Homo sapiens: one gene and its partners. The protein of the gene in region 2 purifies or fractionates together with the protein of the main gene of each other region. This does not show direct contact. Each region holds a gene or a part of one and is shown on either strand. Other genes may lie near its edges.

Region 1 (7,400 bases), on a different chromosome or scaffold from region 2:
TCGGTGGTGGAGGTTTACTTCCCTGAGAACAACATCCCGGGCGAGAGGGTGGCCACGGTGCTGGCGACAGACGCAGACAGCGGTAAGAACGCCGAGATCGCCTACTCGCTGGACTCCTCTGTGATGGGGATCTTTGCCATCGATCCCGATTCTGGGGACATCCTGGTCAATACCGTGCTGGACCGCGAGCAGACTGACAGGTATGAGTTTAAAGTTAACGCCAAAGACAAAGGCATCCCCGTGCTGCAGGGCAGCACTACGGTGATTGTGCAGGTGGCTGATAAAAATGACAATGACCCTAAGTTTATGCAGGACGTCTTCACCTTTTATGTGAAAGAAAACTTGCAGCCCAACAGCCCTGTGGGGATGGTCACCGTGATGGATGCTGACAAGGGGCGGAATGCAGAGATGAGCCTGTACATAGAGGAGAACAATAACATTTTTTCTATTGAAAATGACACGGGGACCATTTACTCCACAATGTCTTTTGACCGGGAACATCAGACCACATACACTTTCAGAGTCAAGGCTGTGGATGGGGGAGATCCTCCCAGATCTGCCACAGCTACAGTCTCGCTTTTTGTGATGGATGAAAATGACAATGCTCCCACAGTTACCCTTCCCAAAAACATTTCCTACACTTTACTGCCACCTTCGAGTAATGTCAGGACAGTAGTAGCTACAGTGTTGGCAACAGACAGTGATGATGGCATCAATGCAGACCTGAACTACAGCATTGTGGGAGGAAATCCCTTCAAGCTGTTTGAAATTGATCCCACTAGTGGTGTGGTTTCCTTAGTGGGAAAACTCACCCAAAAGCATTATGGCTTGCACAGGTTGGTGGTGCAAGTGAATGACAGTGGGCAGCCTTCCCAGTCCACCACGACTCTGGTGCACGTGTTTGTCAATGAAAGTGTTTCTAATGCAACTGCGATTGACTCCCAGATAGCTAGAAGTTTGCACATCCCACTCACCCAGGATATAGCTGGTGACCCAAGCTATGAAATTAGCAAACAGAGACTCAGTATTGTCATTGGCGTGGTTGCTGGCATTATGACGGTGATTCTAATCATCTTAATTGTAGTGATGGCAAGGTACTGCAGGTCCAAAAATAAAAATGGCTATGAAGCCGGCAAAAAAGATCACGAAGACTTTTTTACACCCCAACAGCATGACAAATCTAAAAAGCCTAAAAAGGACAAGAAAAACAAAAAATCTAAGCAGCCTCTCTACAGCAGCATTGTCACTGTGGAGGCTTCTAAGCCAAATGGACAGAGGTATGATAGTGTCAATGAGAAGCTGTCAGACAGCCCAAGCATGGGGCGATACAGGTCCGTTAATGGTGGGCCCGGCAGTCCTGACCTGGCAAGGCATTACAAATCTAGTTCCCCATTGCCTACTGTTCAGCTTCATCCCCAGTCACCAACTGCAGGAAAAAAACACCAGGCCGTACAAGATCTACCACCAGCCAACACATTTGTGGGAGCAGGAGACAACATTTCAATTGGATCAGATCACTGCTCTGAGTACAGCTGTCAAACCAATAACAAGTACAGCAAACAGGTAAGATGTATCCCAAATATATTTAAATATCCCAGGGAGGGCTAATAACTCTGAGACAGATTATCTTCTGTAAAGTTTTGTCTTCTCGTTTTTAAAGTTATTAAAATTTTAACAGTAGGAATTTAATGTTAATTTTTGCACCATTAATTTAGCAAAGGCCATCTACAAGAGGTATACCACTGTATTTTGCAAATTAGAATTAAGGTTCACTAAACTACTGAAAGAAGTATTCAGAGTAGGCAGTGTTTGGCAGTTCTCTTTGCACTTGACATCCCTAATTCATACTACATTTTTTTGTTTCCAGAATAAATATGTGTGTATTACTTAGATGGTTAGTTTTCACCTGAAATTATTTTCTTCTGTGGCAACTAAGTGGATAATTACATCCAGAGAAAAAGTTTCTAAAGTTACTACTGGTGTCTATGCAAATTGGATTCCATAGAAGTTTTAGCTATGTTATTTACAATGCAGGATTTTACAGATAAATAGATGCTGATTCATGCAGATGTAGTACTAAGTCTGAGATATTGAAATACTGACTACTTTGATGAAACTGCTGGTTTAAAAATATTTACTGATATGCAAATGTCATGCAAAACTCCACTTTCAATCTTTTATATCTATAATAATCGATACCTATAACAATTAGTGTTCTATAATGATATGCAATTACCATTTGCATTCTTTCTGTTTGGTATTAAAAGTTTGCAAACAAAAATACATTGCATGAGCCATTTATTATTTAAGCCAAGTAATGAAAATATTCATGATTGATGTACTGTGTGCAAGACTATTTTGGTATGCATTATGATATATTGAGAATGTAAAGATTATGTGGAATATTTGACATAATAGTTTCTCAGTGAAATGTGGAAACAGTAAAAAATACATATATTCTGAGGCGGAACTTAAGCAAATCTGAAATTTATTTTTGAAAGTTTTCCTCGTGTAATATAGCATCCTCAGAAAGTTTACTTTGTATATCTACCAAAGTTTGCCACACAGCAAACAAGACCTTTTGGAAAGGACTGTGTCTCATGGTACAGCAACCTCAGCTAATAAAACATTACGTATTTCTTACTGTCAGAACCCATCTCAAGAAACACAGTTATGATTGTCAATCTAATTTCTATTAAACATGCTTTGCATGTGGAATGTGGAATCCGAGAAGAATTGAGGCAAAGGAAAAAGTTATTTTATAGCCTCATTGAAGATTATAGTTATAGAAAGAGATATGAATTCTTAATTGCTTTCATGATTATTGAAATTAGTATTTTAAATAAATATTTTCTGTATATAGTACTTTACTGTAGCTATTCAGATAAGGAGAAACAGTCTGAATATACTTTTATATCTAATAACAAATGCAATCCAAGAAAACACCAGTTCAAACTACATTTGCATTAAATGGCTTTTGAAAATATGTCCTTTGGTGTATGTGAATTTGAATTATTTATTTATTTTAAACCAACATTTGACATAGTGGAGTGTTTATATCTGTTGTATTATTGTGTTACATGGAGTGAGAAGCTGATTTTTGTGTTGTTTTGGTGCTTTTATTGGTGTTGTAAACAAGGAAGATTCTAGCTAAAATGGTAGCACTTTTTACAGATTAAACACTCAAAAATAAATTGAGATTTGTAGACATTTCTCTAGAAAATAGTAACACCTAATGCAAAGGAGTGTGAAGAGATCTGTCTGCAGAATATTTACACCTCGGTTCTTATCCTAATGGTACTTCTGTCCTGTGTCTGGATAGCATTTGCGTTCTAAATTGTGTAATCTTATGCTTTTGAATGGACATATCAAGTGACACTTTTATGGATATTTTATGCAAACACTTCATATGTTCTGTGCTGTTACTTAAGCTTCATTTGGCTCATCAGATGAGGTTAGCTCTATATGCTTGAATATTTAAAACAGCTAATATCAAGACTGTTGGCATCCTGTTTAAAAGGCAAAGTGATATGCTTATAAATAAACTAATATATGGTGTTAGCCTTTTAACTGAGTAAAGAAGTCCACATTCCAAAAGAGAAAACCCTCAAAGCAATTGGAATGAATCACACAGTTTGCCAAAAGTGACTTTGGAAAACTTTTCTGTCATTACATATTCAAAAGAAGTATACACTTTTAACCCCAAGTAAATAGCTGACCTAAAATGAAATAAAGGCAGATGAAACACATTCCCCTTAATGTAATTAGTAATAGTAATTGATATGTTTCATCTCCTCAATATTGCTGTCAGGGGACAAGGGATCCATTTACAAAGTTACATTCCGTTTTGACATCTGACATAAATGGGATCCTTTTTGTTCTGCTTTTTGTTTGTGCCATAAGTAGACAATTTCCTATTTTTATTTTTAAAATATATGACCTTTAATTTTTACAGAACTGCCAAAATATATTTTCTTTGATTAAACCTGATGTTATAAAAGAAAAAAAGAGAATTCAGGGTTTCGCGGGAATTTCCTTCTTTTGATAAATGGATTTATCTAAGGTAAAACTAGACTGTTGTATTCTTTCAATTCCATACAGCAGGGTCTAATTTAAAAATTGAGATTTCATTTTACATTCATTTTATTTATAGTTTTCCTGAATTGCCTTATTGCAGTTATTTATTTGTGAAAAAATTAAAGTGATGTTTCTTAAGAGTGTTCTTATCTTCATGAAAATTAGACATTTTAAAGTGTTGAACCTAAGTCCTGTTGTTTTCATTATAATAGGTTAAACAGCTTTGTAGAAATGAAAGTTTGTAAATAATACTCTCCCTTAACTGCTTACTTTTTGTTTTGTTTACATAGACTTGAGAGCCATTCAAATCAAGCTTCTATGGCAGACTCTAGGAAATGTGTGTGGTAGAGTTGCTGGAATTATTTCCGAAATTCACACTTTAGAAAAACTCACTGATGATGTAGCCCAAATTTTCATAGTTCATACCTTTGCATTTCAAACAAAAGCCTTTGCTCTCAGCTAAATAATGTGTTTAGCTGAGCAAAATGTGGATCATTGACAGCATGATTGAGATTAAGTATCCACCTTTCTGTTTCATTCTTCCTTGGTAAACCTGGTCTTGGTAGTTGTTAAACTTTTGTGAACTAGAAGTACAACTGTGTTTTTCATTCATAACATAAAGGCATACGCATTCTATTTTTCTGTTTATTTTTAAGTCTCTGGTATTTTACTATGTGCTAAGCATTTTTCAATTTTCTTTTAAAATAATGTAATCCCCCCAAAGAGTGATAGTATGAAAAGTACAGTTACTATTTTGCTTATTATTCTTGAATTCTATTGAGCTTATCCTTGATAGGCTGTTATTTAGATAATGCACTTACAAGTAAAAATTTTATTGTATTTAGTAAATGGAAAGTAAGGTAATTTATTTTTGGCAAGAGCTTAGTTTGAATAAACATCCATTTTAAAATCCACTTGCAGCTGATCCTGAAATACAAAAAATTTACATTAACTTCAGTGACAGTTTCAGTTTGTCTTCATAATGTTCTCTTTAGTGATCGAATTATGTTCAATATATTCATTGTATACCTAGTGAAAAAATTTGGGAGAATTTTTTAATTGCTTCAATTTTGGAAGCAAATGGTTGACTTGCTGTCATCTATTAAGCAATAAGAAAACTAAATGTCAATTCATTTGTGTGTGTGTGTGTGTGTATACATACATATGTATATATATATATATATATAGAGAGAGAGAGAGAGAGAGAGAGAGCATATATATATATTCTTTAGTGGAAATGCATCTACATAGTGATGCCAACCATAGCTTCCAGTGCTCATTCTGTAAGCATAATTTTTACAATGTTTTTCTCCTGTCTATAACCAAGGATGTTTTCATAAGGCACAATGAATCTGCATATGTTGTAATTTCCGTTACATTTGGCCTGATACCATAGGCAAAACACTAATAGCTGATGGAAGTTAGGCTGTGTCTTTAGTCATCTAGTAAAGCAACACTATCTGGATCTCTGGATGTCTATGAAATAAGGAAAAGGTCATCCATTGATTTGATCCGCAATGAATTTGCAAATTTATATGGAAGTCCACATGATTATTTGAATCTTATCCAAAACTTATCCTAAACCAATTAATGACTTAGATGTAAGACCACAAAGTCAGTTTAAATATTTTAATGAGCCATCTAGTACAATAAATATGGCAAAATCATTTTTTCTTATCCTTCTATCTTTGAGTAATTACATATCTCGTATGTGAAAAAGTGTGAACATGGTTTATATCACAAACTCTGTACACACAGAGACATATACACACATATTAGTGTATACCATTTATAGCTGTATTAGTCTTTTATTTAGTCATGATGTTTATAGATTAATATGTGAAAAATATCTAAGCTTAAACATACACAATGTTGAAATAAAATATACTATAATCAACAGCTTAATGACTGTACATGAAATCACTAGCATCATCACATTTTAGAATTACAAGGTGTCAAACAGTCCCCTCATTTTAATAGAAGAGGAGACTGAGGCCCAGCATGAAACAGTGACTTGATTGGGATTACAAAATTGTCAGGGATATAATGTGGACTAGAGTCCAAGTTATGGAATGTAGTGTCCAGTATTCTTATTTATCTGATCATACTACCTTTGGGGGAAAAAAACTGAATTTCTGTAACTTTCTGTGTGTGTATTTCAATTGCAGTAGAAATCTGTTGAAATTTACTTACTTATTTATGACTATATATTTGGCTATGAAGATTGACATCTTTACAATAGACTATAATTCTGCTTTAGGCTCCAGTTCTTCTGTGTAAAATTATCTGGGAAAATATAATTCAAAATTTACAGAATTTTAAAGAAGTTAATAATTCTTTTCCCTCATGTAGGATTGTAATTGATAACATAGAGTAAAGCATCTTAACATGGTTAAGAACATATATTCTGTTGACAGAATTTTTAATATTAGCAGAACAATGATAACAGACATAAGTTCCTTCCTAGCAATTAGTATATTTCAATAAAAATTCATTTAAATAGAAAAGAATTAAAACATTCTACACATTATGTATGAAACTTTTTATGCATTCTAATTGTGATAATCTTTTACCTTTTTCATCAATATTGATAATTACTTTTGACTTCTGGGCTTGTGTGCATTTTATCAACTTTGCACATACATTTTATTTTAGTAGCATCCTTAACACACAGTCATGCACGAATGTTTTCTCTTAATTTGTTTTCTAGCAAGTTTTTAGAAGAATATGACATTTTGTTAACTTTCAATTGGATTGCTTCCTTGTTAGGCAGTTAACCAATCTAGTGTACTAGATTCTAAATTTGCACAGTGATAAAATATAAATTATTGAATCTATTAATTTTAAAAATAAAATCTGAACTATTTTAAAAACTAAATATAGTGTGACAAAGCCATTACTTCAACACAGCAATCTACTCTATTAAACATTTTAACATCTTTTCTTTCCTGGGAGGATGTGGTGGTGGAGATTATGTAGGAGATTTAGTATAATTATATACAGTATTTTAAATATATATATAACTTTAAATATATAACATGACTTTGTTTAGAATAGTCATGTATAAAGAGTGTATAATCGATTTCTAGACTATGGCAAGGTTTCCCATTCATTTATTTACTATGACTCTATAGAAATAGTAAGAGCTGTTCCCATATATCTAGAGTAAGCTTTGCTTTTCTTAGTTTTTTTAAAAAAACCCATAGAATCTTTTCTAAAGCAGTGACTCTTTTGCGGTACATTACACTGTGCTTTATTTAGCATTAGTGTTGTGGGAAAAATCACATTCTAAGAAGAATTGAGCTGAAACCACTAAAACTAAT
Region 2 (7,400 bases):
CCTTTGTCTTTCTCCCAATTTTTTATTATTTTATAGAAATCTTCTTCCTATTACTCATGTGTGTATAGAAGAAGGAGAAAAGCCCATGGTGATATTGCCTTACATGAATTGGGGGAATCTTAAATTGTTTTTACGACAGTGCAAGTTAGTAGAGGCCAATAATCCACAGGTGAGAAAAATTTGCCCAAATACCAATTATTTACCAGTAGTTTCTGATAATGTCTTTGAAAGTAGATATTAACATTCTTAAATATAAACTGTTTAGAGGCCTGCAAAAAAGAACCTCAAAATGAACCACAAGATATTTATAACCTGTTGGCTTAAAGGAAAATGTTGGCTTATGTTCCTGCCTTGAGGCTTACACTGTGCTGATGCTGAAGTTTTCCTTATATTCTCGTTGTGTACTTATTCATAATCAACTCAAACCCTTTGTAATGCCATCTTAGGTGTTTTCCTGATAACTGAGGGTACTTGTCCTAGATCTTCCTCTTAGGAATGGAAACAGACTTTCTAGAGCCATTTGGTTCATACTATACCAAAGTCTGGTGATGACTGGAGGTCTAGATTGTGGGAGATAATTGGATGTATTGTTAATATGCGTGGCTGTAAGATGGCAGTCATCTAAGAGTGTTTCTCTTCCCTGCTTGTGTTTATAACTGTAAAGCAAAGGTCAGATACCAAGCATATTATGATGGTAGTGGTAGTAAAGCCTAGTGGGTTTTTTTTGCTGTCAGCTGTATCTTGTTGTCCCATTAAGTTGCTTTAGGATTTATAATAGTATGCTTATTATAGTTGCCAGGAGAAAGTGGGTTCAAAGGCTGCATTCAGTATTTGGCCTAATATGTATCATATGCTTTGTAAATTGACAAGACTAAAGCTGGGATTCTCAATAAGTGGTTAGAGGCTGTGGCTCATCTGCATTACCTGGGGAAGGATTTTATTCCTCAGCCCCAAGTACTGTCATACACCTAGAAGAACACATCAGCAGAAAAAGCTAGGAGCTCGTACTTTGGGTTTGTGTGTGGTTTTTTTTTGTTTGTTTTTTGTTTTTTGTGTTTTTTTTTGAGATGGAGTCTCGCTCTGTCGCCCAGGCTAGAGTGCAGTGGCGTGATCTCAGCACTGCCAGCTCTGCCTCCCAGGTTCACGCCGTTCTCCTGCCTCAGCCTCCCGAGTAGCTGGGACTACAGGCGCCTGCCACCACGCCCGGCTAATTTTTTGTATTTTTAGTAGACGGGGTTTCACCGTGGTAGCCAGGATGGTCTCAATCTCCTGACCTCGTGATCTGCCTGCCTCAGCCTCCCAAAGTGCTGGGATTACAAATGTGAGCCACCGCACCCAGCTGCAGGGTTTTTTTGTTTTTTGTTTCATTAGACAGGATCTCAGTCACCAAGGGTAGAGGGCAGTGGTGTGATCACAGCTCACTGCAGCCTCAACCTCCCATGCTTAAGCAATCCTCCCACCTCAGCCTCCTGAGTAGCTGGGACCACAGGAACATGCCACCATACCTGGCTAATTTAAAAAAAAATCATTTTGTGTAGAGACAGGGCCTCAGTATGTTGTCCAGGTTGGTCTCGAACTCCTGGGCTCAAGTGATCCTCCCACCTCAGCCTTCCCAAGTGCTGGGATTATAGGCATGAGCCACTGCACCAGGCTTAGATTTGTGTTAATTTGAAAATAATCCCAAAGAGAGAATCTCCTAATAAAAACTACTGTTTGGGGGAAAAAAAGATTACTGAATTATAAACATTTGAAATATTACCTTGAGAACTCAGCATTCACTGAACAGATGTATTGAGCAGCTGCTGTGTGTGCTGGATATTGGGGAGATACATCTAACAGATGAAAGGAGACAGAGTAAATGGTAGATTACAGAATAATAAGGACTACAGTTGATATAAGTATAGGGATATATGGGAACATAGTCTTGGTCAAGAAATAGCTTTTAAAAATTCTGTGTGTAGGTTTAAAGCAGTATTTTTGGATGGAGTAGGATTGTGGAATAAAAAAAGTAAGAAAGTGCCATCATATTTGTGTGCTATTTGCAAACCATGTTATTTTTTGTTACCACAGGCAATTTCTCAGCAAGACCTGGTACACATGGCTATTCAGATTGCCTGTGGAATGAGCTACCTGGCCAGAAGGGAAGTCATCCACAAAGACCTGGCTGCCAGGAACTGTGTGTAGGTGCCATGAGCTTGACGCTGTCACTTGATGTAGAGTGCTTCCTGGATTTGGGGTTCTCTGCGAGTCACAGTGGGACTTGTGTTGTATTTAAGGGTGGTGATGATCCCTACTTTTTAATACTCTGATTGCATTTGATGTTCATATCTTTACTTTTCAGCATTGATGACACACTTCAAGTTAAGATCACAGACAATGCCCTCTCCAGAGACTTGTTCCCCATGGACTATCACTGTCTGGGGGACAATGAAAACAGGCCAGTTCGTTGGATGGCTCTTGAAAGTCTGGTTAATAACGAGTTCTCTAGCGCTAGTGATGTGGTAAGTGCCGGGACCCCCAGATAGCAAAAGAATAGAGAAACAGCTTTCTGTTTTTAAATGTTCTACTATTTTTATCTTTTGGGTTTTTAAAAAATCTGCTAGCTGTTCCCGGAAATTTTTATCCAGAAAGCAAGTGTAATTAGCTGCCAGTCAACCAGTTTATGGAGAGGAGCTGTGACCCAGACCATAGGCCAGCACTGTTTGTAATCTCATTTCATCCTCACAGTACTGCTCTGACAGAAGCACTTTTTTTTTTTTTTTTTTTAAGACAGAGTTCCACTCTTGTAGCCCAGGCTGGAGTGCAATGGCGCAATCCTGGCTCACTGCAACCTCTGCCTACCAGGTTCAAGCGATTCTCAGGCCTCAGCCTCCCAGGTAGCTGGGATTACAGGCGTGTGCCACCATGGGCACATGCCCAGCTAATTTTGTATTTTTAGTAGAGACGGGGTTTCACCATGTTGGCCAGGCTGGTCTTGAACTCCTGACCTCAGTTGATCCACCTGCCTCCGCCTCCCAAAGTCCTGGGATTACAGGTGTGAGCCACCACGCCCATTGACAGAAGCACTATTAACACTAGGAGATAGGCTGTGGTATCCCAGTTTTAAAGGTGAGGATTTTGAGACTCAGAGCAGTTACAGTAATTTCATTATTATTTCTTTCTTATATAAGAGGCAGACCAAATAGTTGCTAGATCATAAAGATGTTTTCTTTTTTTCAGGTGACCTCTTCTAAGTGTTATGGCTCATAAAATTTGTAAATCCCCCCGTCATCCTCTTCCTTTTGTCAAGTTTCTGGGTGGTTTTGCCACTTAGCCAGATCATAGTTGGGCCCTTTGTGATGTACAGTTTCAGAAGCCACGTTCACTTGTTCATATTTTACAGCCATGTAAAATTTCTGTCACTTGATTTCTTAGTCTTATTTGGAAGACTAAGTGTAATTTATTTTCCTGTCTCTTGCCTGTTAGACTTTATTATTGTTGCAGAATATTTAGGGATTAGGTAAAACTTCTGCTTATAGGGTCCCACATATGTTCACTCAGTGATAATCTGTTTGTGTTATATGTAAAATCCTATAGAATAATTTGCTTCTAAGCTTCAACTGTAAGAATTGGGCTTACTGTATCATTGTATTTTGTGTGTCTATATTTTAAAATTTAGGGCTACTCTTTTGTTTCAAAGTGTGTATGTTTTAAGGATTAATCTTTTAATCATGTATTACTGTACGCTAATTAATTATATTAATTGGTATATACTCATTTCCTCGGTGTATGAGTTTTCTGTGGCTGCTGTAGCAAATTACTACAACCTTGGTGGCTTAAAACAATAGAAATATAGTCTCTCGTGGTTCACTTCTGAGGCCAAATGTCTGAAATCAAGGTGTAGTCAGGGCTGGGCTCCTTCCAGAGGCTCTAGTGGAGAAGCAGTCCTTGCCTCTTTCAGCTCTGGTGGCTGTTGGCATTCTTTGGCTTGCGGTTCCATCCCTCTGTTCCAAGTTCATACCACCTTCTTCTTCACATACGTCTTTCAAACTCTCTTTGCCTCCCTCTTAAAAGGATACATATGATTTAGAACCCACTTACATAATCCAGAATAAACTTTTCCTCTCAAGATCCTTAATCACGTTTTGTCATGTAAGGTAATTACAAGTTTCAGGGAGTAGGACATGGGCATATCTTTGGGGCTACCATTCAGTTCACTGCAGTCAATAATTGAAATGATCTAAGATTTCTTTACTGAAAAACTGATATTCTAATTTAAAATCCTTAAAATGAGAATAATTTGAGAAAGGGGAAAATTCCTTTAATTAACTCTAACTACTAAATAAATTTTTTTTCCTTTTTAGAAACTATGTGCTATTTGATATTGATATGGTTTGGCTATGTCCCCACCCAAAATCTCATCTTGAATTGGAATTCCCATAATCCCCACGTCAAGGGCGAGACCAAGGGTGGAGATAATTGGATCATGGGGGGCAGGTTCCCCCATGCTGTTCTAGTGAGTCTCACGAGATCTGATGCTTTTATCAGCGTCTGGCATTTCCCCTGCTCACACTCACTCCATCCTGCCACCCTGTGAGGAAGGTGCCTGCTTCTTCTTTTCCTTCGTCATGATTGTAAGTTTCCTGGGGCCTCTCCATCATTGCAGAAATAAGTCAATTCAACCTCTCTCCTTTATAAATTACTCAGTCTTGGGTATTTATTCATAGCAGTGTGAGAAGGGACTAATACAGATATATTGCTCCTTTTACATACCAAGTATTTTGATAAAATGTGTTCACTTAATGTGAATGAGCAATTTACTTATATAATTTTTAAATTTTTTTTTTTTTTGAGACAGAGTCTCGCTCTATCACCAGACTGGAGTGCAGTGGCGCGATTGCAGCTCAGTGCAACCTCCGCCTCCTGGGTTCATGCGATTCTCCTGCCTCAGCCTCCTGAGTAGCTGGGACTATAGGCGCGCACCACCATGCCTAGCTAATTTTGTTAAAATCAAGGTCTTTCATTTTATATATCTTCAAAATACTTTGTTTTAACTCAAGATAAACTATTCTCAAAGAAACAATTTATCTGACATTTGTGAGATGAACAAAGTAAATATGAATGATTATGAGAAGGGATGTGATCTGCTTCACAGAGCAGTCTCAGAAGCTAACACTGAATGACAACCTGTTTCATGTTGTCCACAGCCTCTCCTAGCCAGAGAGGCATCGGGCATGGTGGGTGATGGGTGGCAGGATGAGGGAAATAAAGCCAGACTCTTGGATACTGAATCCCAGGGTTCAGCTTATAGAGCAGTGGGGTACTAGTCCTGGTCTGTTTTTCCAGAGCTCTGATGATAAAGAAAAAATCTCTCTCTAGCATTAATGTCTAGAAGTTAAACATACCAAGTAAAGCAGTACAAATATGCAAAGCAGGTTATATTCTTTTTAAATCTCTACGTAATGAGAACCTGGGCTTTTTTTTAGGGAGAGAAAGGTTACATTTTTGGTTTTGATTTTTATATTTTTCAAATGACATACGAAGGGAAAGCAGAGTTTGATTTTAGACCAATGCACAGCTGCTGTACTGAATGACAGTAAGGACTAGTTCTACTCTTTGATAATGTTTTTGGTTTTAGAGTTGCCAAATCTTTATTCAGAAATTCTGAATTGTAGCTGGAACTGTTTACCAGCTCTACATTAAGCAAAGCTATTTTCATGGAGTGGGAAAGGGGACAGGAGGAATTGGTTTGGCTTTGGTTGTAGAACATAATTTTAAAACATAATATCAGTTGAATTAGAGCAGTGTGATCTCAAATTTACTCCTTTAGTAAAAGCTCACATCTAAACATTTTTAAATGTAGAAAAGTGAAGTAAACTTTTCTTAGTGTTTACTTTGAAAATTTTATTCCGTAGTTGATTTAAAAGATGGATTCACTCGTCTCTTTGGGATGTTAATTTTTTTATTTCCAGTGGTTGATTTAAAATTTTTATTTTGTTATTTATTGAAATATAGTTGCCTTTGCTGAAATGATATGGCTGTTGTGGTGAACCAAAACTAGTTCGATGGGCAGAAAATGGAAGATAATTCTTAGATGATAATCTATAAGTATTTCGTGTAATTTGAAGAGGTTGGAAATCTTTTTATTATTCTCTTAGAAAAAGGAGCATTGATAGCTTGTATTTCAAAGGGGTATGCAAGATGGCAAGTAGTGCTATTTGCTTGCACAGTGGAGGCCCCCAAAATATGTATTACTTTTTTTTTTTTTCCTTAGCTACTTCTGTTGCCCAGGTGGGAGTGCAGTGGTACAGTCATAGCTCAGTGTAGCCTTGTACTCCTGGGCTCAAGTGGTCCTCCTGCCTCAGCCTCCTGAGTAGCTAGGACTACCAGTGTGTGCCACCACACGTGGCTAATTCTTTTATTTTTTGTAGAGATGGAGGCTTGCTGTGTTGCCCAGGCTGATCTTGTACCCCTAAGCTCAAGCGATCCTCCTGCCTTGACCTCTCAAAGCACTGGGATTACAGGCGGGAGCCACTGCACCCAGCCTGTATTACTTAATTTAACGTATTTATTTCTGTGTAGGTATACCATTGTATAATTAAGCGATGATAGGAATTATTTTTTTGTAACATTTATGATTAAATATTTTGTAGGACCTACAGAGTGAAAATTAAGTTAGATAATATACTTTCAACAAATGAGGCTATAGCTAATAATAAATCTCCAAGCAAGATGCTCCAAGAGCGTTGAGTCTCTTCAGCTGGGTATTAGCTGGCAAAGTTCATGTTGAGGATACATGGTTTGGTTAGGCAGAACATTTCAAATTATATCAGAAATAGTTATTTTTATGGTTATGACATTTTGCAGGAGTTCACACATTTTATGTAAGAATCTGCCATCATCAGAATGCAGTTACACCAAATACTTAGTTGCTTGTTCATGTGGCAGCTTTATTTTAAAATATCACCATTAACTTAATGGTGAGCAGATTCACAAGAGAATTACTTTAGTTAGTTATTTAGTTTGTTATTACAGATAGAGTTTTTTATTCATTCTCCTCCTCCGCCTCTTCCTCCTCGTCATCTTTGCCTTTCTCTTCCACCTTTGTCCAGACAACTTTAGTGGGACCTTTTGCGCCATCAGATTTTCCTTTAGACTTGCAGTTAGCAACATCCTTCTCATACTTCTCCTTCAGCTTTGTTGCCTTTGTGATGCAAAGCTGCTTTTTAGTGTCACTTAAATTACTCCACCTCTCACCTAGCTTTTTTGCCACATCTCCAATAGAGATGCCAGGGTCTGAATTCTTGGGGCAGAATTCTGAACAGAACAGGAAGAATCTGGACAGTGACCTTTTGGGGACATTGAGGTCCTTTTTGTTTTTTATTTTTTTGTTTTGCCTCCCTTAGATAGTCCATAATCCT
Region 3 (8,133 bases), on a different chromosome or scaffold from region 2:
GTGGATAATCTGTGGTTGTTTGGCATCACCATCATTCCTGACTCTGAATGTATATGCTACTGATAAATAATCATTTTCTTACATTTATTCACACATAAGTACTTAACAGTAGAAAACATGACATACCATTAATGCAGTGAAAAAATAAAGTGTTCGGGGTAACTAAGCAGCAGAGTAGCACCCCCAGAATACCTCCATCAGCTGTTAAAGAATAACAACAACAAGCAATAGCAGTGTTCAGTCTCCACCTATGATGCTGTGTTTTAATTATATAGTTACTGTACACTGTATTTTATTTTTTTAGATAAGAAGAAATCTTAGAAATAGTTGAAGGACTAGAAAGTGGGTCCTCTGAGGCATTCAGCTGGATGCCTTTTTAAAATGTTTTCTCCAGTCATCTGCCCCATTACCAACTGTTTTTGTCTTAGAAGTCCCTCTTTGATTATATAAACCAACATTATTTCTTGTTCTGTTATGAATGAACATTGCTTTAGTCCTTCAGTAAGCCCATCACAAATTTTCACCATGTCATTTATAGGCACTTTCTCTGTAGTGTTAACATCATCTTCATTGTCACTGATTATCACGATCAACTTGATTCAAAACCATTTCAGCTACTTCATCATTGGTCAGCGAATGAACAACTGGAGCCTCATTATCCATGATAAACATTGTTTGATATTCACTTCTTCCAGCTTACAGACAGACAGACATTGGGGGTATATTTTTTGCATGTGTGAGTAGATCAGCCGTTATTTTTTTTCTCACTTGACATACACAATCCTTCAAAGTCACTACCTTGTTTATCATCACTGAACATAGTTGCAGGCCAGAGATTGTGCCAGGCATGCACAACTTTGTCTATAGTCACTATGTTCCAAGCATAGGCAACAGCATATATGGCATCCTGCAGACTAAAATTTTTTTTTTTTTTTTGAGATGGAGTTTCGCTCTTGTCACCCAGGCCAGAGTGCAATGGCGTGATCTCAGCTCACTGCAACCTCCGCCTTCCAGGTTCAAGCAATTCTCCTGTCTCAGCTTCCGGAGTAGCTGGGATTACAGGTGCCCGCCACCATGCCTGGCTAATTTTTGTATTTTTTAGTACAGACAGGATTTCACCATGTTAGCCAGGCTGGTCCTGAACTCCTGACCTCAGGTGATCCACCTGCCTCGGCCTCCCAAAGTGCTGGGATTACAGGCATGAGCCACTGCATTCGGCCTCATACTAAACTTTTTTTGAAAACCTCCACGCCCATTCTTCTGTTTATTGCTGCTAGCATGCTGTTCAAGAAAGTATTTTTATATTTATCCTTCAATGCTTTAAGGATATCCTGGTCACATAGCTGAATCAATAAAGTCACATTTGTGGGGAAGTACATGGCATAAACATGATTTTTGATAAGAATTTCAGCTGGAGAATAAGCAGAACAGTTGTCAAGGAATATAAAATCTTGTAGTCGTCATCCAGTTCAGCTTTCCTGCAGTGACTGTATGCCTCTGGTACAAAATGTTTGTGAAATCAATCAGAAAAGATGTCCTTGGTCATCCATGCCTTTTTGTTAGCAGAATAATGGACTGATAAGAAATTCACTCCTTGAAAAAAAGAGAGGACAAACCTTTGCCTATCACAGCAAGTTTACACTTATGCGTGCCTGCAACATTAGCACATCCCAGCACAGCTATTCTGTCCTTGGCATTTTTAATTCCTATAGAGGCTGTCTCATCTGCCACCGTCAGTGTCTTTCTGGGGCAATGATGCCAAAATAGTGATGTTTCGTCAGCATTATAGACGTGCTCTGGTATCCAGTTTTCATCAGCGATGATATGGGCAAACTCATTAATGACTTTTTCCACAGCTTTCTGATCTGCAGATGCTTTATCACCACAAATCCTTAAACATTTAGTGCTGTGTCTTTGCTTAAATATCTGCAACCAGCCTGTTGAATAGTCACAGTTCCTTTCAATTTCAAATTCATTGTGATAGATCTTTGCTTGTTTCATGATCAGCATACCATTAAGTGGCATGTGGTCACTGTGATGCCGATGGATCCACTTTTTCAGTGCACAATTGAGATCTTCATATTTTGCATCATACAGTGTTTTTCTATTTTTCATTTACTTGTGTTTATCGCTTTTAGCATAGATCTTCAATTTATCCTTCTGTTTCTTCAGATTATACATGGCGGTCATTCTGTCACCATACTTTTCTGTAACAAATCTCATACCCATACCACTGTCCAGTTTCTCTAACAGCTGGACTCTGTTGCATAAACATAATAAATGCTTCCTCTTTTTATCACTGATAACCACAGATTAACTTCAGGCTTCTTTGATATTTCTTTTTTTTTTTCTTTTGTTTTTTTTTTTTTTTTTGGAGATGGAGTCTTGCGCTGTCACACAGGCTGGAGTGCAGTGGCACGATCTCGGCTCACTGCAACCTCCACCTCCCTGGTTCAAGCGATTTTCCTGCCTCAGCCTCCCAAGTAGCTGGGATTACAGGTGCCCGCCACCACACCTGGCTGATTTTTTTGTATTTTTAGTAGAGACGGGGTTTCACTATGTTGGCCAGGCTGGTCTCAAACTCCTGACCTCGTGATCCGCCCGCCTTGGCCTCCCAAAGTGCTGGAAGTACAGGTGTGAGCCACTGCACCCGGCCTGATATTTCTTTATACTAACAATAGCTTTACACCACAGAGCAAAGAAAAGGAAAACAAAAACCAAAAAACAACAAAAAAGCAAACCCACAGTGAGTAATGCACGTAGATGAAGGCCCAGTGTGGGCATTGTGGGGAACTTGTCGTTGGCAAATCCAGCCTGCATGCATGCCATTTGATTACCTTTGGGGGGCACGCTTGCATGGGGGAATTTAGGCATGCCCTGAAAAGATATATAGCAGCAGAAAAGGGCTGGGAGGGGCTTTTTTCCCTTGGGGATGCTAGTAAACTGCATAGTGTGTCTGCATTTTGATGGTGACCCATCACATGTGACCAGGTGTGGAATTTTGCACTTGAGGTATTACTTGTCGGAACTCAAAAAGTTTTGGATTTTGGAGCATTTCAGGTTTTGGATTTTTGGATTAGGGATGCTCAATGCTCAATCTGTAGTAAGGTTTTATCTTAATCAAAAAACAGATCATTATTTTGTTAGGGAATAATAATTCTTCAGATAAATTCAAGAGAAATGTGATCCATTTCACCCACCTTAACACAGAGGCACCAGTGTGCCTGCTAAGGTTATTTATAGATCCGAAGTCACTTAATGGTGCAGATAATCTCCCACTTTTTCTTCCCATCATAGTGTCTGGGCTTATGTTGTTCAACACCAACAGGGTAGCCACTGGGCATTTAAATTCAAATGTAAATTAATTAAAATGAAATGAAAAATTTAATTCTTATTGCACACTATCTACATTCCACACACTATGTAGCCACAGTTGGCCACCATATTAGACAGCAAAGAACTAGAACAGCTATACAATCACAGAATGTATTATTAGACAGCACTGGACATGGTTGGGTTGGTCAAATGAACTGCTATTCAAATTTAATACAACACTGATAAATGATAAATGGAGACCATTTATTTACTTCCCATTGAGAAAGCTCTAGCCAGATAAACAGATTCCTGCAAATTGGTCCCTAAGATAAATTTTGTAGGGGCCAGAGGCAGTAGTGTCCTTAGACCCAAGCAAGAAAAACCGTGTTCTAGGCCCTCCATTTTAGAGGACACCAACCTGACTCTTCTTATGGGGTGAAAAATCTCCAGGCCAGCACCCAAAGCCTGGGTACCCACTATGTCCCCAAGACCCAGGACCCTGGAATTCCCTGACTGGTATTACCAAAGCCACTTCTTGGCCCTGAGCTAGCTTCTTCTGAGAACTGTCCTCCCAATGAAGGACCCAACAACTGGTATAGGCACACCTGAGATCCAGACGCAGACAGAGGGTGGCTGTTAGAAAGTGTGAACAGAACTTGGTTTTGTGGGCTGCGGTGTTCACACACAGGTACAAAAAATCCCCTCTTGTCCTTGAAGATAGCTGGGCACAGGAAGCAAAGACGGTGAAGGTGTACAGGCCAAAGGTTTGGATCTGACTCTTTCCCACCTGCCATGTTTCAGGGAGAAACTCCAAGGTGTCTGAGAATCCTGCTTACAAACCTTCCAGGTTGTTATGAAGGTAATTTCTCAAGGCAGGAGCACAGAATATATTTTATTAGCATGATATAGTCCTTGTAAAATTTTAAACATAGGGTAGGTAAGCCCTGGGCTTGCAAATGTTAGGGCGAGGCTGGAAGTCAGAGTAATCAATTCTGTTGGGGTTTCTTGGAGGGTTTGCTCATTATTGCTCGAACTGGTGAACATCTCAAGTATCTTTGCCTGTCGAATTTCTTTCAAAAGGCTGCCTTTCTAGTGAGGTCCAGATGCATCCTTTAGAGACCATCGCTGTTGTTGCTGAAGGCCAGAAACAGCTTCAGATTGTTCACTGTATTGAAGAGGAACCTGTTTACTGGCTCCAGTGTATTTGGGACAAATAAGACTACCATAATGAGGTGAGAAGGCGATTCCTTCCGAAACACTTGGTTTTGGGTACTTTTCCCATAGGGTTGGTCAGGGAAATTCCCTACTCTCGTCCCTACTCCATCCTCCGGGCCAGGCTCCTTGGGCCACATGGGCAGTCTCCAGGAGCGCACAAGACTGCTTTGTCCTGTGCCCGCGGTGCGAGCGCGGTGGCGGCGAAGGGAAACGAGCAGGAGAGTGGCCACCGCGGGTGGAGTTTGGACTCGAACTTTCCTCCGTTCGGACTCGAACTTTCCTCCGTTCTCTCTACGAGTTACTGCCTTCCCGCGGGCTCCCCACAACTCCTGCCCGGAGGCCGAGGCCCGGGCGCGCACCGGGTCGGAGTCGGGCTCGGCAGGTCCCGGGAGCGCGCGCCTCCTCCCCGAGGTCCCGGGCAGCTGCAGACACGGGGAGAGCAGGAGAGCCGGGAAAGAGGAGGGGAAGGGGCGGGGGCGGCCGCCGGCGGCGGGCGGGGAGGAGCCGCCGCGCGCGGGTCCTGGCCAGGGGAGGAGGCAGTGGCGGCGGCGGCGGCGGCAGAGGAGGAGGAGGAGGCGGTGCTCGCGCCGGGCGGTAGAGCGGCGCTGGGACCCATGCGGCCGTGACCCCCGGCTCCCTAGAGGCCCAGCGCAGCCGCAGCGGACAAAGGAGCATGTCCGCGCCGGGGAAGGCCCGTCCTCCGGCCGCCATAAGGCTCCGGTCGCCGCTGGGCCCGCGCCGCGCTCCTGCCCGCCCGGGCTCCGGGGCGGCCCGCTAGGCCAGTGCGCCGCCGCTCGCCCCGCAGGCCCCGGCCCGCAGCATGGAGCCACCCGGACGCCGGCGGGGCCGCGCGCAGCCGCCGCTGTTGCTGCCGCTCTCGCTGTTAGCGCTGCTCGCGCTGCTGGGAGGCGGCGGCGGCGGCGGCGCCGCGGCGCTGCCCGCCGGCTGCAAGCACGATGGGCGGCCCCGAGGGGCTGGCAGGGCGGCGGGCGCCGCCGAGGGCAAGGTGGTGTGCAGCAGCCTGGAACTCGCGCAGGTCCTGCCCCCAGATACTCTGCCCAACCGCACGGTCACCCTGTGAGTATCTCCCGCGACGCTGGGTCCTCTCCCGCTCGGCTCTTTCTTATCTCTCCGCTCAACTTTGGAGCAGGGTCCAGCCGGCACCCACGCGCCTTTGTGTGGAGCTGTAGGCAGGGGGCGGTGCTAGGAAAGACCTCGTGTGCTTGGCATGGGTGCAGTTCAGGGAAAGGCAAGGGAATCTGCGTCCGAGCTGCCTCCCAGCTCCACTAGTTTGCAAAGTAAAGTTTTCGGGTTCTCAGGCGCTCCCCGCGCTGTCCCCGGCGCAGCGCTTTTGGGCTGCGCGGTGCCACGTGAGGATGCAAGTAAACACGCAGTCAACAGAGTTAAAGCTCATTCATCCTGGGCTTGGGTTTCCAGAAAACACAATGCTTGATTGCAAGCGCCAGTCCTTCTGCTTCTTTGCAAATTAAGTTACACTTACGTGGTAGAGTTTGCAAAACACAAGGACTGTGTGCGAGCCCAAACCCCAAGACGCTTCCTTTGCCTTTTGCTATCTTAGTTTTATTACAGTTAAAGAGCACCTTTTAAGATAGAGTTGTTATTAAGGGCTGGAAACATTTCAGATCAATCTGTTTATGTACCTTGCAGTCCCGTTTTCGTGTCTGTGAGGGCTTATATTTAAAAGCCAGGAACATTGGAACTGAAAACCGTGGGTTTATTGAGCCTTCCAACTCGAGGGATTTTTGATTTTCGGATTGAGTTTCCACCTGGAAGGAAAAATTTTGGTAACTCACTTGTGCTGGGATTCACGGTTCAGTTTTGCAAACGTAGTTTTGCCAATTCTAGCTGAACAGTTGGCCCCAGTGACTGTCGAGTTTGTTTTCAGAAGGATGAATTGGTTTGGAAAGTTTTGAGTCTAAGTGTTTCTCATGGGTATTTTGTTCAACTGAAATGTGAGTCCCTTGGCTCGGGGTTCCTCTATGTTGTTTTGGTTGGTTTCCTAAAAAAAGAATCAAGGCAGCCACTATACAAACATGAATGCAAGGACCGCAGCATGATCTATGAAAACACTTAAAGTATGGTTTTAAATGTAACCCAAATTCAGCAGGAGTATACACAGGTAGGCCAGGTATACATTTCATTACTAACACTTTTGTTTACCTTCATTTCCATTTTTTGAATTAGGAAACGTTTAACCATGAAAATTGTGTCTATGTGTCTATTTATGGAGGCATGAAGATGGATGAAAGAGTTTTTGTTTTATTTGACTCCGTTACTAACACGTTACCATGTGGTGGTGGCAGCAGTTATATTTATTTATTTCTTAGTCAGATTCTTTGAAGTGGAAATTTTCGGTATGGGACTTTAATTACAGTCCAAATGGAGAAAATCCCAATGTTGGAGGAGATTTTCTTTGTTACTCTGCAAAAATTAGTCATCATGCAGTTATGTTATAAACATTTAGGTTTTGGGTCAATGAGTGACATTTACGTTGACTCATGTTTAGGTCCAGTTTTTCTGACCTAAAAGTGTCCACAATTTCAGCTGGATTAGGTCAACTACTAGTAAATTGTTGATTTTGCGTTGCAGAAAAAAATAGGGGATATGGTGGTAAATTGATTTTCAGCATATTACCAATTAAACTATTTTTCTACAATTTTTAGAAACTGGTTAAAATATAAGTAACTATGAAATGTCATTTCAATCCAGTTTTTTTTTTTTTTTTTTTTTTTTTTTTTGCCTGAAAGCTTTTTAGATGAAAATAAAGTTAAGGTTGGGCATGGTGGGCTCACACCTGTAATCCCAGGGCTTTGTGAGGTCAAAGCGGGTGGATCCCTTGAGGTCAGGAGTTCAAGACCAGCCTGGCCAACTTGACGAAACCCTGTCTCTACTAAAAATACAAAAATTAGCCAGGCGTAGTGGCGTATGCCTGTCATTCCAGCTACTTGGAAGGCTGAGGCAGGAGAATCACTTGAACCCGAGAGGTGGAGATTGCAGTGAGCCGAAATCGCACCACTGCACTCCAGCCTATGTAACAGAGTGAGACTCCCATTCAAAAAAAAAAAGAAAAAAAAAATTTGTTTAGTGAATGGGAAGAAGATACAATTAAGGATCAATTAAAGCTGTTCTGCTGGTTGTGGTGGCTCATGCCTGTAATCCTAGTACTTTGAGAGGTGGAAGTGGGTGGATCACCTGAGGTCAGGAGTTCGAGACCAGCCTGGCCAACATGCTTAAAGCCCCATCTCTACTAAAAATACAGAAAATTAGCTGGGCGTGGTGGCGTGCACCTGTAATCCCAGCTAGTCGCTACTCGGGAGGCTGAGGCAGGAGAATTGCTTGAACCCAAGGAGAAGGAGTTTGCAGTGAGACAAGAAGGCACCATTGCGCTCCAGCCTGGGTAACAAGAATGAAACTCCATCTCAAAAAAAAAAAAAAAAAAAGAGGAAAGTTGTTCTGGCTGAAGAGGGTTCAAGGTATATGAGGCCCCCTGTAGAGGGGTCTTATGGGCCAGTTTCCTCATTTTACTGGGGAAAGAGTTAGAGTTACTGTAGATAAGGGACTTGCTCACCAGAATTCTCATAG

The links. The genes of interacting proteins can lie anywhere in the genome.
Region 1: the proteins of RYK (region 2) and PCDH7 purify together in Homo sapiens (affinity purification with mass spectrometry; 3 studies listed by BioGRID and IntAct, with this or other methods). This does not show direct contact.
Region 3: the proteins of RYK (region 2) and ADGRA3 purify together in Homo sapiens (affinity purification with mass spectrometry; 3 studies listed by BioGRID and IntAct, with this or other methods). This does not show direct contact.

Annotation. Positions count from the first base shown.
Region 1 is NC_000004.12:30,723,034-30,730,433, forward strand, and holds part of PCDH7 (protocadherin-7 isoform d precursor), read left to right. Parts: coding exon 1-1,563; intron 1,564-7,400.
Region 2 is NC_000003.12:134,170,710-134,178,109, reverse strand, and holds part of RYK (tyrosine-protein kinase RYK isoform 2 precursor), read left to right. Parts: intron 1-36; coding exon 37-169; intron 170-2,070; coding exon 2,071-2,180; intron 2,181-2,341; coding exon 2,342-2,501; intron 2,502-7,400. UniProt on the Homo sapiens protein: May be a coreceptor along with FZD8 of Wnt proteins, such as WNT1, WNT3, WNT3A and WNT5A. Involved in neuron differentiation, axon guidance, corpus callosum establishment and neurite outgrowth.
Region 3 is NC_000004.12:22,513,002-22,521,134, reverse strand, and holds the start of ADGRA3 (adhesion G protein-coupled receptor A3 precursor), read left to right. Parts: upstream 1-5,068; 5' UTR 5,069-5,350; coding exon 5,351-5,607; intron 5,608-5,749; exon of another isoform or gene 5,750-5,823; intron 5,824-8,133. UniProt on the Homo sapiens protein: Orphan receptor that may have a role in planar cell polarity pathway.